4 separate regions of the Homo sapiens genome follow, and all the other regions are reported to be linked to region 1. The links are microRNA targets in miRTarBase. Many come from high-throughput screens and were not tested one by one. Region 1 holds a microRNA gene; each other region holds the end of a gene's coding sequence.

Region 1 (3,120 bases):
CCAAGCCAAATGCTCCTGAGCACCCAGTCCCTGCCTGGGACACGCTTTGCCCCAACTGACTGTGTGCCTGGGGCAGCCTGAAGACTCAAAGGCTGCTAGGAGCTCCCAAACTAGGGGAATCCCTTGCCTGCTTCCCACCAGCTGGCCTGACTCTCTGGAAACTTCCCCATTTCCCTGGGAGCCATAGAGAGGTTTGAATACTTCTCTCCAAGAGAAGAAATTTTTTCTCTCACAAAGGGATGGGGGACAGACAGACCAACAATCCAGCTAGGGAGACAGGAAATTCTATTCCCATTTTCTCCTCCAGCTTCCTTGGGAGTCAAAACAAATATGTTCGCATAAGAGAGGGGAAAAATAAATGTGTATGCGTATAAATACATACAGGGTATTTAAGAGAGCCTAGGGGAGACAGAAACAGAGCCCTACACTCATACAAGGTCACATATATCCCTCCCAGCAGATGACTGTGAGAATATAGAACTCTGTATATATTTTGTTACAGGGACATAATTTTGTTTCCCTGTCTAGACGTTTATAATGTTTTAATAATCATAATAATTTCAAAGTAAGAGAACCAAGAACCTGACCTTCTTTTGGCTTCTCTTCCCCAGTATCTCTGAGAACAGGGGTGTATCTCCTCAGTCTCCATAACCCCTCCCCCATTTATTCCCCCCCCCCCAACTCCGCCCGCAGGCAGGCAAAGAAACCTCTTTTGAGAACTTTCTCTGTAGCAACCAGGGCCAGAATTGAAGAACCAAGGGGGAAAGGATGAGAGGAAGCTTTGCAAAGTTTCACACTGCTCAGATTTTCCTCTACCCCATTCTCCTCCCCTCCTCCCCCTGGCATCAGCCAACAACCTTTCCACCAACATAGCAATGGTGGGCACGGGCAGCCTCTGTTCACCCAGATGTTTCCACATAGTGCAAAGACAGGCAGCTGCCTGACAGTCACAGCCACAGAAACTGAGGCCTTCAGGCCACAGACGACTAAACAGAGACCAGAGTCAGGTTTTTGCCCTGATGTTTCCCAGTTGCGTGCGTGTGCGTGTGTGAGGGGTTCTACTTGGACTTTGATGGCTTTCCTCTAACCTACCAACACCCCAAACATGTCCTTCCCCTGGAGATGGAGCTATAGAAGGGGAAGGGGAAAGGGCTGGGCTGGCGCTCAGAGTTCCCCAACTCTTGGAACCTCCAGGTACCCCACTTTTCTAAGGAGAATCTTGAGCCCCAGTCGACTGGAGGTGGTAGGTGGGAGAGGCTAACCATTCCAGAGACCGTCTTCTCTTTCTGTGCTCCTCTTTCTGCTAATAATTCTGCCCCACCCTGCTGCCCAACTGAGCTGGCCCGCCAGGCCACCTCTTACTCAAACTCCTGAATTTCCTTGGAATTGGCTGGACCCTCTTTGTCTGTCTCCATCAGCTGGGCCCAGGAGACAATAGCTGCAGGAAAGACTCCTCTCCCTTAATCACAGGGATTGGGATAGGTTGAGAGGACGGCATAAAGCAGGGTTCTCCAGACTTGTTCTGCAACCCCACTCACAGCTTGTCCTCCTTGGTCTGCACCCACTTTGCCCTATCTGGGAGGGGGCAGTGGGGCAGTCCCACTGGGGAGGGTAGGAGTGGGAGAGGTGGGTTGGGGCCCTCGACGAAAACCGACTGATGTAACTCAGGCAGTTTCTTGTTGCCGAGTTCAAAACTCAATCCCAACAACATGAAACTACCTAAGCCACAGATCAGCTGAGCGAGCAGGGCGGGAGATTCAGCTTTGCATCTATCTGGAGGAGAAGGGAAGGGGGTTGGGGAAGGAAGAAATTCAGCCCCGTCCCCCTTTCCGCCCCCACAACCTCCCTAAGGACTAGAGAGTAGACTTTGGGTTGCTGGGTGGGTAAGGGGTCTGACTGCCTTCATTAGTTTCTGGTCTAAGCAAATTGCTCAGGAAAAATCTGGTGAAATGGGACCACTGGCGGCCAAATACCTGCCCCACCCCCAGCACCGCAGTGGAGCTATTCCCCTGCATCTGGCCCTGGCCCTGGGGGAAGCTGGATCTTCCTTCCACTCTGGAGCTGGGTCCCCTGTCTTGTCCATCTGGCTCTCCTGCACTCTCCTGCTAGACTCCCTCTGATCCTCTCCCTCTCAGCTCGGTTTAGGCTTCTCAGCGAATGTGGGTAGCTGAATCATAGCCCTGTGCTCTGGAGCCACTTCCAATCAGGCCACTTGCCTGGCAAAACGTTACAGCCAGGGAGCACAGGGAACAAGAGGCTGGACGAGGCTCACATCCAAACCAGCGAAAAGCAGGAAAACCTAAGCTTCAAGCTTCAACCCTCTGTACTCCTCCTCCCCCACCAACAGACGACCAGACTGAGCAACACCTAGACCAGAGTGTCGACTTCGAGGAGACCCAAAGTGCCCGAAAAGATAAAGAAGCCAAAAACCATCAATTTATCCCTTTAACTGTGGAACCCCCATGGCAATGGGCCCGGGAGGGAAGGAGAGGGAGCTCCCAGTCGCTGCCCTCCGCTGCCAGCGGCCACTAGGAAAGCCTGGGTTCTCGGCAAGCACGGATGCCCTAAACACCTTCCTCCAGGCTCTGTCCGCTGCACGCCGGACACCTGGGGACACCGCTCATCCCCACTCCGCCGCCAAGAGAAGAACAAGAAACCGCTTCTCTTACCTTGTCGCTGCCTCCTCCTCCTGCTGCTCCTGGCGTTTCTGTTAGCTGCTGTCGAGGTTGGGGGGGCTGAGCTCCTCATGCCCCTCCAGCGGTTAAGTTTATTCCTTTCCTTGGATGGGTGGGGGGCTCTTGGGGTGACCCCCAGCAGCAGTGGGGTGCGCCCAGCCCAGCACCCCAGGCAATCAGATCCGTCTGCTCCTCAAGATTGCAGCTTGCTCTCTGCCTCTTTCCCTCCTCCAGTCACCTTTAAATGCATCTTTTACTGCAGCACCACATTATATTTGCAGATCATAAAATCCACCTCTCGCGCGCACCAAGACCGTCCTGACATTACTGTTTTATGACCTTGACTTATTGTGGTCACCTGGATAATATTTAAATCAACGTTATGGTCTCTCACTTACATTAAACCCGCCAAGAGACGTTCTAGAAAGGCTCTAGGAGATGAGTC
Region 2 (3,120 bases), not on the chromosome of region 1:
CAGTGGCACAATCTCGGCTCACTGAAACCTCTGACTCCTGGGTTCAAGCGATTCTCCTGCCTCAGCCATCCAAGCAGCTGTGAATACAGGCACACACCACCACGCCTGGCTAATTTTTCTATTTTTAATAGAGACGTGGTTTCACCATATTGGCCAGGCTGGTCTCAAACTCCTGACCTCATGATCTGCCCACCTTGACCTCCTAAAGTGCTGGGATTACAGGTGTGAGCTACCGTGCCCTGCCAAGGATATTCTTTTCAAAAAAATTGTGTGAAACAATTGGATATCCATATACAAGAAAACAGTCAAACCACAGTTCACACCCCATACAAAATTTAACTAAATGGAGATTATGGAATTACATGTAAACTCTGAAACTATAAAACTTTTAAAAGAAAATGTAGGAGAAAATCTCCATGACCTCCAGTTAAGCAAAGAGTTCCTATATATGGCAGTATAAACATAATTCACCAAAAATAAAACTGAGAAGTCTTACTTCATAAAAATTTAAAACGTTTGCTCTATGAAAGAAAGAAACTTCAGAGACTAGGAAGAAGACTTGCAAATCACACGACTGACAAAGGACTTGTACATAGAACTCTCAAAATCCAACAATAAGAAGGCAAACAACCGAAGGAAAATTTAATGAGCAGATGATTGAACAGACACTTCACCAAAGAAAATATAGGAGTGTCAAATAGGCACAGGAAGGCACGAGTGGTTCAACACCCTTAGTCACTGGAAAATGCGAATTAAAATCTCAGGGATATGCCACAGCATACCCATAAGGAAGGCTGAAACAAAAACTGACACTACGAAGGACTGCTAATTATTTGGAGGACCTAGAATTCTCATACGTTACTTATGGAAATTAAACACGATGCAGATGCTTTGGAAACAGTTTGGCAGTGTTTTGTTTTGTTTTGTTTTGTTTTTGTTTTGTTTTGTTTTGTTTTGTTTTGTTTTTGAGACCGAGTCTCGCTATGTCCCCCTCCCCCAGGCTGGAGCGTAGTGGCACCACCTCAGCTCACTGCAACCTCCGCCTGTGGGTTTCAAGTGATTCTCCCGCATCAGCCTCCCGAGTAGCTGGGATTACAGGCCCGCACCACCATGACCAGCTAACTTTTGTATTTTAGTAGAGAGGGGAGCCTAAGTTCTCATTGCTGTTAGAATGAGATGGCTGGATCATTATTCTAAGTGTACGTATAACATGATAACAAACTATCAAACTGGACCGGGCCTGTAATCCCAGCACTTTGGGAGGCCGAGGCGGGTGGATCACCTGAGGTTAGGAGTTCAACACCAGCCAGTGCAACATGGCGAAACCCCGCCTCTATTAAAAATACAACAATTAGCTGGATGTGGTGGTGGGTGCCTGTAATCCCAGCTACTTGGGAGGCTGAGACAGGACAATCACTTGAACGCAGGAGGCGGAGGTTGCAGTGAACTGAGATCATGCCACTGCACTCCAGCCTGGGCAACAGAGCGAGACTCCATCTCAAAAAAAAAAAAAAATTAGGCACCCCTGTCAAAGTCTTGTCTACTCACTCTGGAGTGGTCCCCAGGTGATCTGATGTGCCTAGGGCAGAGACTTACTTTGAAAATTACTTCTGTGGTAGGAAAAGTCATGGCCTCTGATGCCAAACGAACCAGATTTATCCCCACTCTTCCACTCAGAGTGACCTTGAGCAAGAGAGTTAACGTCCAGTCCATAAAATTGGTGTGAGGATGAAAACCACTTTTACCTGGGAAAGCTAAAATGTCACCTTCTCCCTTCTCAGTGGTCTACTTCTTAATAGGACAAAAACAGTCAGTGTCTGTGGAGTTTGCAGGGCATGCCTGTTCTAGAAAAGTGTCTAACCACACCTGTATCTTACAGGAATATCTGTGCATCTATTGCTATAAAAATAAAATCTCTACTCCAAAAGTCATTTGATGAAGAATAACTCAATTTGTAACTGATAATGATACCTCAAGCCATTAAAGTGCCAGAAAAGAAATCTTACAAACTGAAACAAAACCTTTTAAATTATTTTCTAAAATTACATATTTTTAAAAATTTAAGACTGATTTGAATACTTAACATGCACATTTTGAAGAACACAAAATAATGTTTCCTAAGATGATTTAATATCATGGAAAGATGCTCACAACATATTCTTTTGTGAAGAATCCAGATGGAAAAAGTATATATGAGCTGTAATAGCATGTTTAGGTAGAATTCACATAAAAATCACTATTTCAACCATTCTAAAGTGTCCAATTCAATAGCATTTAGTGCACTCACAGTGTCGTGCTACCTTCATCACTATCTAGGTCCGGAACATTTTCACCATCCCAGGAGGAAACCCCATCCTGATTAGCAGTCGCTCCTCAGTCCCACCTCCCCACAGCTGCTGAAAGCCACCAATCCACTATACATCTCTTCAGATTGGCCTGTTCTGGAAATTTCATATAAAAGGACAGTACACTATGTGACCTTTTGCATCTGATGTCTTTCATTCAGTATCATGCATTCAAGGTTCATCCACAGTGTAGTGGGGATCACTGCTTCATTCCTTTTTATGGCTGTGTAATACTCCATTGTATGGATGGACCATATTTTGTTTATCCTTTCATCTGGTAATATATAGCTTGGGGTTGTTTTCATCGTTTGGCTACTGTGAATAGGGCTGCCATGAACATTCACGCACAAGCGTCTTTCTGTTTGAACACTTGTCTCAATTATTTTGAGTAGATATCTAGGATGGAATACAGGACTGTGGAACAGGGTCTTAGGGTAATTCTAGGCCTCACTTTTGATGAATCAGGGGTCATTTTAGTGGGGTCAGAGTGGGTCTCTGCAGAACTCAGCTCAGGGGCTCCACCCGCAGCCAAAGTCCGCCCTCTGCGCGCAGGACCAGCTCCGGCTTCCTGCGGGGCTCGGTGTGGTCAGGCAGGACGCGGAAGCGCAGCAGCGTGAGCCCCAGGACCACCTTCATCTCCGCCATCGCGAACGCCTGCCCGATGCAGTTCCTTGGGGAGGGAGGTGGAAACTCTGACTGCACCCAGGTGCCCCATCCTGGCCCCATCAAGCCGGTAACCTGGCCTGGGACACCCAACCCCACCTAGAGCAGTTTG
Region 3 (3,120 bases), not on the chromosome of region 1:
CCAGGGGCCAGGCTGGGAGCCCACAGCCACCCCACTATGCCGCAGGCCGCCCTACCCACCTTCAGGCAGCCTATGGGACGCAGGGCCCCATCTGTCCCTCGGTCGCCGTGTGGCCAGAGTGGGTCCGTCGTCCCCAACACTCGTGCTCGCTCAGACACTTTGGCAGGATGTCTGGGGCCTCACCAGCAGGAGCGCGTGCAAGCCGGGCAGGCGGTCCACCTAGACCCACAGCCCCTCGGGAGCACCCCACCTCTGTGTGTGATGTAGCTTTCTCTCCCTCAGCCTGCAAGGGTCCGATTTGCCATCGAAAAAGACAACCTCTACTTTTTTCTTTTGTATTTTGATAAACACTGAAGCTGGAGCTGTTAAATTTATCTTGGGGAAACCTCAGAACTGGTCTATTTGGTGTCGTGGAACCTCTTACTGCTTTCAATACACGATTAGTAATCAACTGTTTTGTATACTTGTTTTCAGTTTTCATTTCGACAAACAAGCACTGTAATTATAGCTATTAGAATAAAATCTCTTAACTATTTCACCGGCTCTCCAGTGCTTCCACACAGGCATGCTGCCCCCAGGAGATGGTGGGTGCATCAGCCAGCTTTACTCTAGGAAGTACAGGTGACTGCCTAGGGCCGCCACCTCAGTCCACACCCTCCCCATGTTCCCTCCTGAGTGTGCAGGCACTTCTCTGTGTCTGTGTGAGAGGCTCTTCCAGCATGGTTGCCCACAGTGACCTTGATCTCGTTTGCAGTCCTGTCGGGCCCAGCCAATGAGACCTGGGCCATACAGGGCAGGGGTCAGCAGGCACCATGGAAGACCTCAGCCTCCGTCCTTCCCTCCATCGGCCTGCTGCTGAACCCCACTTTGTATAGCTGGCTATGGGGCAGGGCCACTGCTAGCATACATAGGGCTTTGTGCCAACCAGGGAATGGTCCCTGCCTGAGTGGGCACAGCCCCCACCTCTCCTCAAGATGCCATGCAGCAGGGGGCTGCCAGTCTGGGGGTACCTGTTTCTGGGATGGGGCCATCAGCAGGTCTAAGGTCTGCCTTCTGTTGGGCAGAGTCCCAAAAGAGAGGGCTGCCCTGGCTAGGTGGCCCAACCTTCATCCCCCTTGACAGCACCCAAGACAGCACAGTCTCTACTCCAGTAGCCACCCGAGGGTGAGGGCAGAGGTCAAAGCCACAAGCTACACCTTGGCCAGGGCCCTGAGGAAGGTCTGCATAACTTCCCTTGAAATCAGAAACAGGCCAGGTGAGGGAGCTCATGCCTCTGATCCCAACACTGCAACGCTGCATTGAACTGTGATGCAGCCCAGGTGCCATCTGTCTTTATGCCATGCAGCCTGGTGGCCGCACACATCCTGAACAGCCCTGATCCTTCTTAGGGTCAGGCAGAAGGGACACCCAGCCCACTGCCTCTGGAGAAGCGGAGCTGAGGGTTGGGGTAGCAGGCAGTTGGAGGAGCTCCCCAACCCCCACACCCAATTGAGGCTGTGCCTCCACAGACTGCAGTCTTTGACCTCACCTGTCGCAGGGATAGGGCTCCCTGCCCCAGGTTCCCACATTGCCAGCTGAGCACCTGCTTCCAGGGCCTCAGCCCTCCCTGGGTTTTGGTGGGGGCTCTGGGCACACATGGGAGGACTACATTCCCCCAGGACATTAAGAATCAGATGGGCACCGGGGCTCACACCTGTAATCCCAGCACTTTGGGAGGCCAAGGCGGGCGAATCACCTGAGGTCAGGAGTTCAAGACCAGCCTGGCCAACACGGTGAGACCTCGTCTCTACTAAGAAATAACAAAAATTAGCCTGGCGTAGTGGCAGCGCCTGTAATCCCAGCAACTCAGGTTGAGACAGGAAAATCGCTTGAACCCGCGAGGCGGAGGTTGCAGTGAACTGAGATCACACCATTGCACTCCGGCCTGGGCAACAAAAGTGAAACTCAAAAAAAAAAAAAATCACCAGGTCTCAGACTCCTGGGAGACAGACCCCAGCTCCGACGTTCCAGTGGGATCTCATTAACCCCTGATACTGACCTTCCAATTTGATATACCTTCCTTTTAAAATATATTTATTGAAATACAAAGAGTCAATATAAAGAAAAATAGAGGTCACCATACTTGGCCACAGTTAGACCGCTCATAGGCCCATGGCTGCTGCAACCATGGGCAGGACACAGAGGGAGTCCAGCCTCTACTGATAAATCTGGGCAGGTTCACCTTCGCAGGCCAAGCCAGGGGCCATCCCTGGTATGCGAAACCTGGAGGTTTTCCAGGAAGCCGGCTGCTCCAGAGCTAGCTGTCAAGTCTTTAGCCCCACAGGCTGGTGCCCAGAGCCACTTCCACAGGAGCAGCCTCGGGCTTCACCCACACCCAAGGAGCTTCCGAGGCAGGAGGCAAGCAAGGTGAAGGGAGGGTTCAGGGTCCCACAACAGCAGTGAGCAGGGTCCAGCCATCAGGCCTCAGAGCCTCTGTCATGCCACCTGCGAGACGGGCTCCTCCTGTCCCCACTGTGTCCCCGCTTCCTCCTCTTACAGCAGGGGGAGTTGGAGTCGGAGTCATGGTGGTGGTGCCTGGGCCTGGGGAGACCAATGGCAGTCAGTCACTCGGAAGGAGTCAACCAGGCCCCCACCCCCAAGAGGCAGATATGGACCAGGGCATACCTCTCAGGAGATGTGGGAGAGGAGGTGGCCTCAGCTGGCCGCCTGTGCTCTTTGTCTTTCTTCTTCTTCTCTTTCTTGTGTTTCCTCTTTTTCTTTTTCTTCTTCTCCTTCTTGCTTTTCCTGTGGCTCTCACAACTACAAGGAGGATACAAGGTGTGCCTCAGACCCTAGTCTTGCAAGCCAAGAGAGTGAACACAAGCAGGCCCCATCCAGATGAAGCCACCACCCACAAGTGCGTCTTTAAATCAGTTAAATCAAACTACAAATTCCACTCCTCAGTTACGTAGTCACGTGGCCAGTGGCTACGTGGGTTAGAAACAGATGCAATATCCCCATCTCCACAGCACGCCCCTGCCCCACCCCAGCCGTGCCCTTGGCAGGTTGACACCTTCCTACCTGCACCCACCAGGCCACTCTTAGGGTCAGGCCCAGGCTCACCATCCAGGAGAAGCCCTG
Region 4 (3,120 bases), not on the chromosome of region 1:
CGCCTGTAATCCTAGCACTTTGGGAGGCCGAGGTGGGTGGGTCACAAGGTCAGGAGTTTGAGACCAGCCTGGCCAACATGGTAAAACCCTGTCTCTACTAAAAATACAAAAATCAGCTGGGCGTAGTGACGTATACCTGAAATCCCAGCTACTTGGGAGGCTGAGGCAGGAGGACTGCTTGAGCCCAGGAGAGGGAGGTTGCAGTGAGCCGAGATCATGCCACTGCACTCCAGCCTGGGCAACAGAGCATGACAATGTCTCAAAAAAAAAAAAAAAAAAGAAAGGACAATTTTGTTGCTCAATTGATCTTATCAACTGTTTCTGCAACCACAAAAGCAAATGTGGTCATGTTTCTGATTTTAGTTAAGTCCAAAAATATTTATTAAAGTCTTATCACTAAAAATGGCCACAAATATTAAAAATAAAATATTAGTTTTTAGATTCACAGAAGAAAAAAATAGCCACTGACACTTGAGGAGATGCTCAATTCCGATGAGGGACATTCAAAGTTACTTTCCAACATTATCTGAAAAGTATTGATCCTTTTTTTTTTTTTTTGAGACGCAGTGTCGCTCTGTTGCCCAGGCTACAGTGCAGTGGCATGATCTTGGCTCACTGCAACTTCCACCCCCCAGATTCAAGCAATTCTCCTGCCTCAGCCTCCCGAGTAGCTGGGATTACAGGCTTGCACCACCACATCCAGCTAATTTTTGTATTTTTAGTGGAGACAGGGTTTCACCGTGTTTGACCAGGTTGGACTCCTGACCTCAAATGATCCGCCCACTTCAGCCTGCCAAAGTGCTGGGATTACAGGCATGAGCCACTGCACACAGCCCAAAGTATTTATCCTTTATTTTGTGGTTATATGTTGGGAAAGAAGAACGTGGAAAAGAAGTGAACTAACAAATTTTCAGGTATTAATATTACAATTCAGTACATTCTGACAAAAAGAATTATTTCCTATGAAATTACACCCATTGGCTGGGTGCAGTGGTTCACGGCTGCAATCCCAGCACTTTGGGAGGCCAAGGTGGGAGGATCACTTGAGGCCAGGAATTAAAGACTACCCTGGGCAACACAGCAAGACCCTGTCTCTACAAAAAAAGAAAAAGAAAAAAAAATTACACCCACTGAGAAACAGAATGTGTAACAGTAAAACAACAGAGCAGCTTCCATGTGATTTTGATAGGAAAGCTTTAATTGGTGACTAAGCTTTGTAAAAAGGATGTAAACAGGGGAAAGAATGAAAAGAATAAGATTTATCTACATAATGAAGTTTGACTTTTTACAGTAAATAAAATACCTATTTATTAATATTTCCAAATATTAATTAGATTTAATAATACTATATATTTGTTACAATGCCTTCATCAGAAAATTTAATAATTAAGAAGATACTTGAAGTTCATTCAAATGGCACTTGCAGAAATGCAACTTAATTTCTAGTTCTATCATATCTGTCTCCAAAATGGACATATATGACAGCAAAAACAAAATTCTCTATAAATCTCTCCATTAGTTACATTACTATGTAACTAAAATAGCTAGTTCTATAATAAAAGGATTTTATGTGCCAAATCCTGACCAAGAGAGAAATAAAGTCATTATTGCTGCAAATCCAAATGGAACCTAACCCAAATGTAGGGAGGGGCAAATAAAGTGAAAACATGTTGGAAGGTGGGGTCAACTGCCTTAGGACAATTCTACATCCAGCTTGACACTACTCACGACTTACTCCTCCTCACTGTTTCTTCCAAGAAAGTCTAAGCATGTGAAACTGTCCTTGTTGCTCCCTGTGGATCTCTGGCTGAGTGGCTAAAGGGCAATCCTGAGCATAGACACACTCTCCTCCCTTCTATCAGCTGTCCCCCACACATACTCACAGGGATGAGTAGACTGAACAAACATCAAAAAGACGCAGGAACAAATAAAATACCCCAATAAAGGCAATTCTTAAGTGGTCAATAAATTAGGGCACTTCTTCAAATTAAGCTCTGTCAATTAGGCACTTAATAAAAACAAAAGACATTTATACAAGCATCTAAATAACAAAGAAAGATAAAGAACAAGAGAAAGACAAGATTTATGTTAACTACCAGCATGTTATACTTCAGCCAGAAGTTTTTGAAAGAAACGTTATTTGAGAAGGAAAATAAGTAGTATTTTTCTGTTTCTTAAAAATCAATATTCTTTCTAGTTCATTAACTAAAATTAGTTTTTCAGTGTTTTCAACATAGAAAGAATGCTCAGATTTTGGTTGAACAAGGAAAAATTAAGGCAGTGTCTTTAAGACCAGTAAAGGAAAGCATTAACTATCTCATAAGCTTATCTGAGAGGGACATATTAAGCTCATATTTGGATATAATATTAGGAAATTATGGCTTTAAACATAAAATATTAATGTTTCAAAATTCCACATTTTCTCAGTTATTCTTTCTTTTTAGCTATATGTACTTCAAATAGCCCACTTAAAGAATTAAAGAAATACGTTTCACATAATTTTGGAACAATATGTGCATGGTACTTGACCCAGAACTATTAGCTTGGATGGTAAATCATTATGTTCCTATGTACCACTGACCCAGTATAAAAAGGAAGAGGACCCATAACTGTCAAAATGTGGTTGGAAATGACTAATGTCCTTTGGAATTTGCTACAAAATAGAAGATATAAAGTTTTGAGGTATTGCTGCCTTACCATGGTTTAGGGGAAAAAAATAAGAGTTTTTTGTTCCGTTTTGTTTTTTTAAAAGCAATGCTTCTTAAGTTATGAAGCTTATTTAAAATTTTCTCCTCTTAGTCATTGTCATATGGGTTATCCCTGAGCTTCATCTCATCTGCACGTCACATAAACCAGCTACCTATGGTTTTGATCATTTCATTTAGTGTTATGTCTTGTTATACCAATTCATGGAGCGTTTCACTGCTTTGGCCCAGTTTTCCAGACTCATTTCATATTCTTGACATTTCTTCTGTGGCTTGAAAACCACTTCACTTTGTCTCAGTTTCTTTAGTTCCTCCTTGTCAGTCCAAAACCCTATAGATAAAAAAATTATCCTCAAATTTTAAGGCAAATCATGAGTCCAATAAAGTTTATCCAAAAACCTATACGAGTTGCTGG

Evidence for each region. Region 1 holds the annotated microRNA hsa-miR-196a-3p (CGGCAACAAGAAACUGCCUGAG, at 1,664-1,685, opposite strand). A microRNA usually pairs through its seed, bases 2 to 8, with sites in the 3' UTR of a target mRNA and lowers its output. Matches are read on the target gene's strand: a 7mer-m8 pairs with bases 2 to 8, a 7mer-A1 pairs with bases 2 to 7 and ends in A, and an 8mer does both.
Region 2: the mRNA of CYP4F3 is a reported target of hsa-miR-196a-3p. Seed matches in the 3' UTR shown: 7mer-m8 at 1,477-1,483.
Region 3: miRTarBase lists C1orf35 as a target of hsa-miR-196a-3p. The part of its 3' UTR that is shown has no 7-base or 8-base seed match.
Region 4: miRTarBase lists GK5 as a target of hsa-miR-196a-3p. Seed matches in the 3' UTR shown: 7mer-m8 at 1,072-1,078 and 7mer-m8 at 238-244.

The regions. Positions count from the first base shown.
Region 1 is chr12:53,990,364-53,993,483 of GRCh38, reverse strand. MIR196A2 (microRNA 196a-2) reads right to left here and starts at 1,746; the gene lies at 1,637-1,746.
Region 2 is chr19:15,659,115-15,662,234 of GRCh38, reverse strand. CYP4F3 (cytochrome P450 family 4 subfamily F member 3) reads right to left here. Exons shown (of 13, transcript NM_000896.3): 13 at 1-3,015. The coding sequence ends at 2,850. Among named protein-coding and RNA genes, the nearest start is that of CYP4F12, 12 kb to the left of the region's middle.
Region 3 is chr1:228,098,675-228,101,794 of GRCh38, forward strand. It overlaps C1orf35 (chromosome 1 open reading frame 35), which reads right to left. Exons shown (of 8, transcript NM_024319.4): 7 at 2,665-2,799; 8 at 2,057-2,580. The coding sequence ends at 2,457. It overlaps ARF1 (ARF GTPase 1), which reads left to right. Exons shown (of 5, transcript NM_001658.4): 5 at 1-538. Among named protein-coding and RNA genes, the nearest start is that of MIR3620, 3.0 kb to the left of the region's middle. RefSeq lists enhancers at 1,347-1,586, 2,697-3,120.
Region 4 is chr3:142,162,735-142,165,854 of GRCh38, forward strand. GK5 (glycerol kinase 5) reads right to left here. Exons shown (of 16, transcript NM_001039547.3): 16 at 1-3,036. The coding sequence ends at 2,888. Among named protein-coding and RNA genes, the nearest start is that of TFDP2, 15 kb to the left of the region's middle. RefSeq lists an enhancer at 1,555-2,290.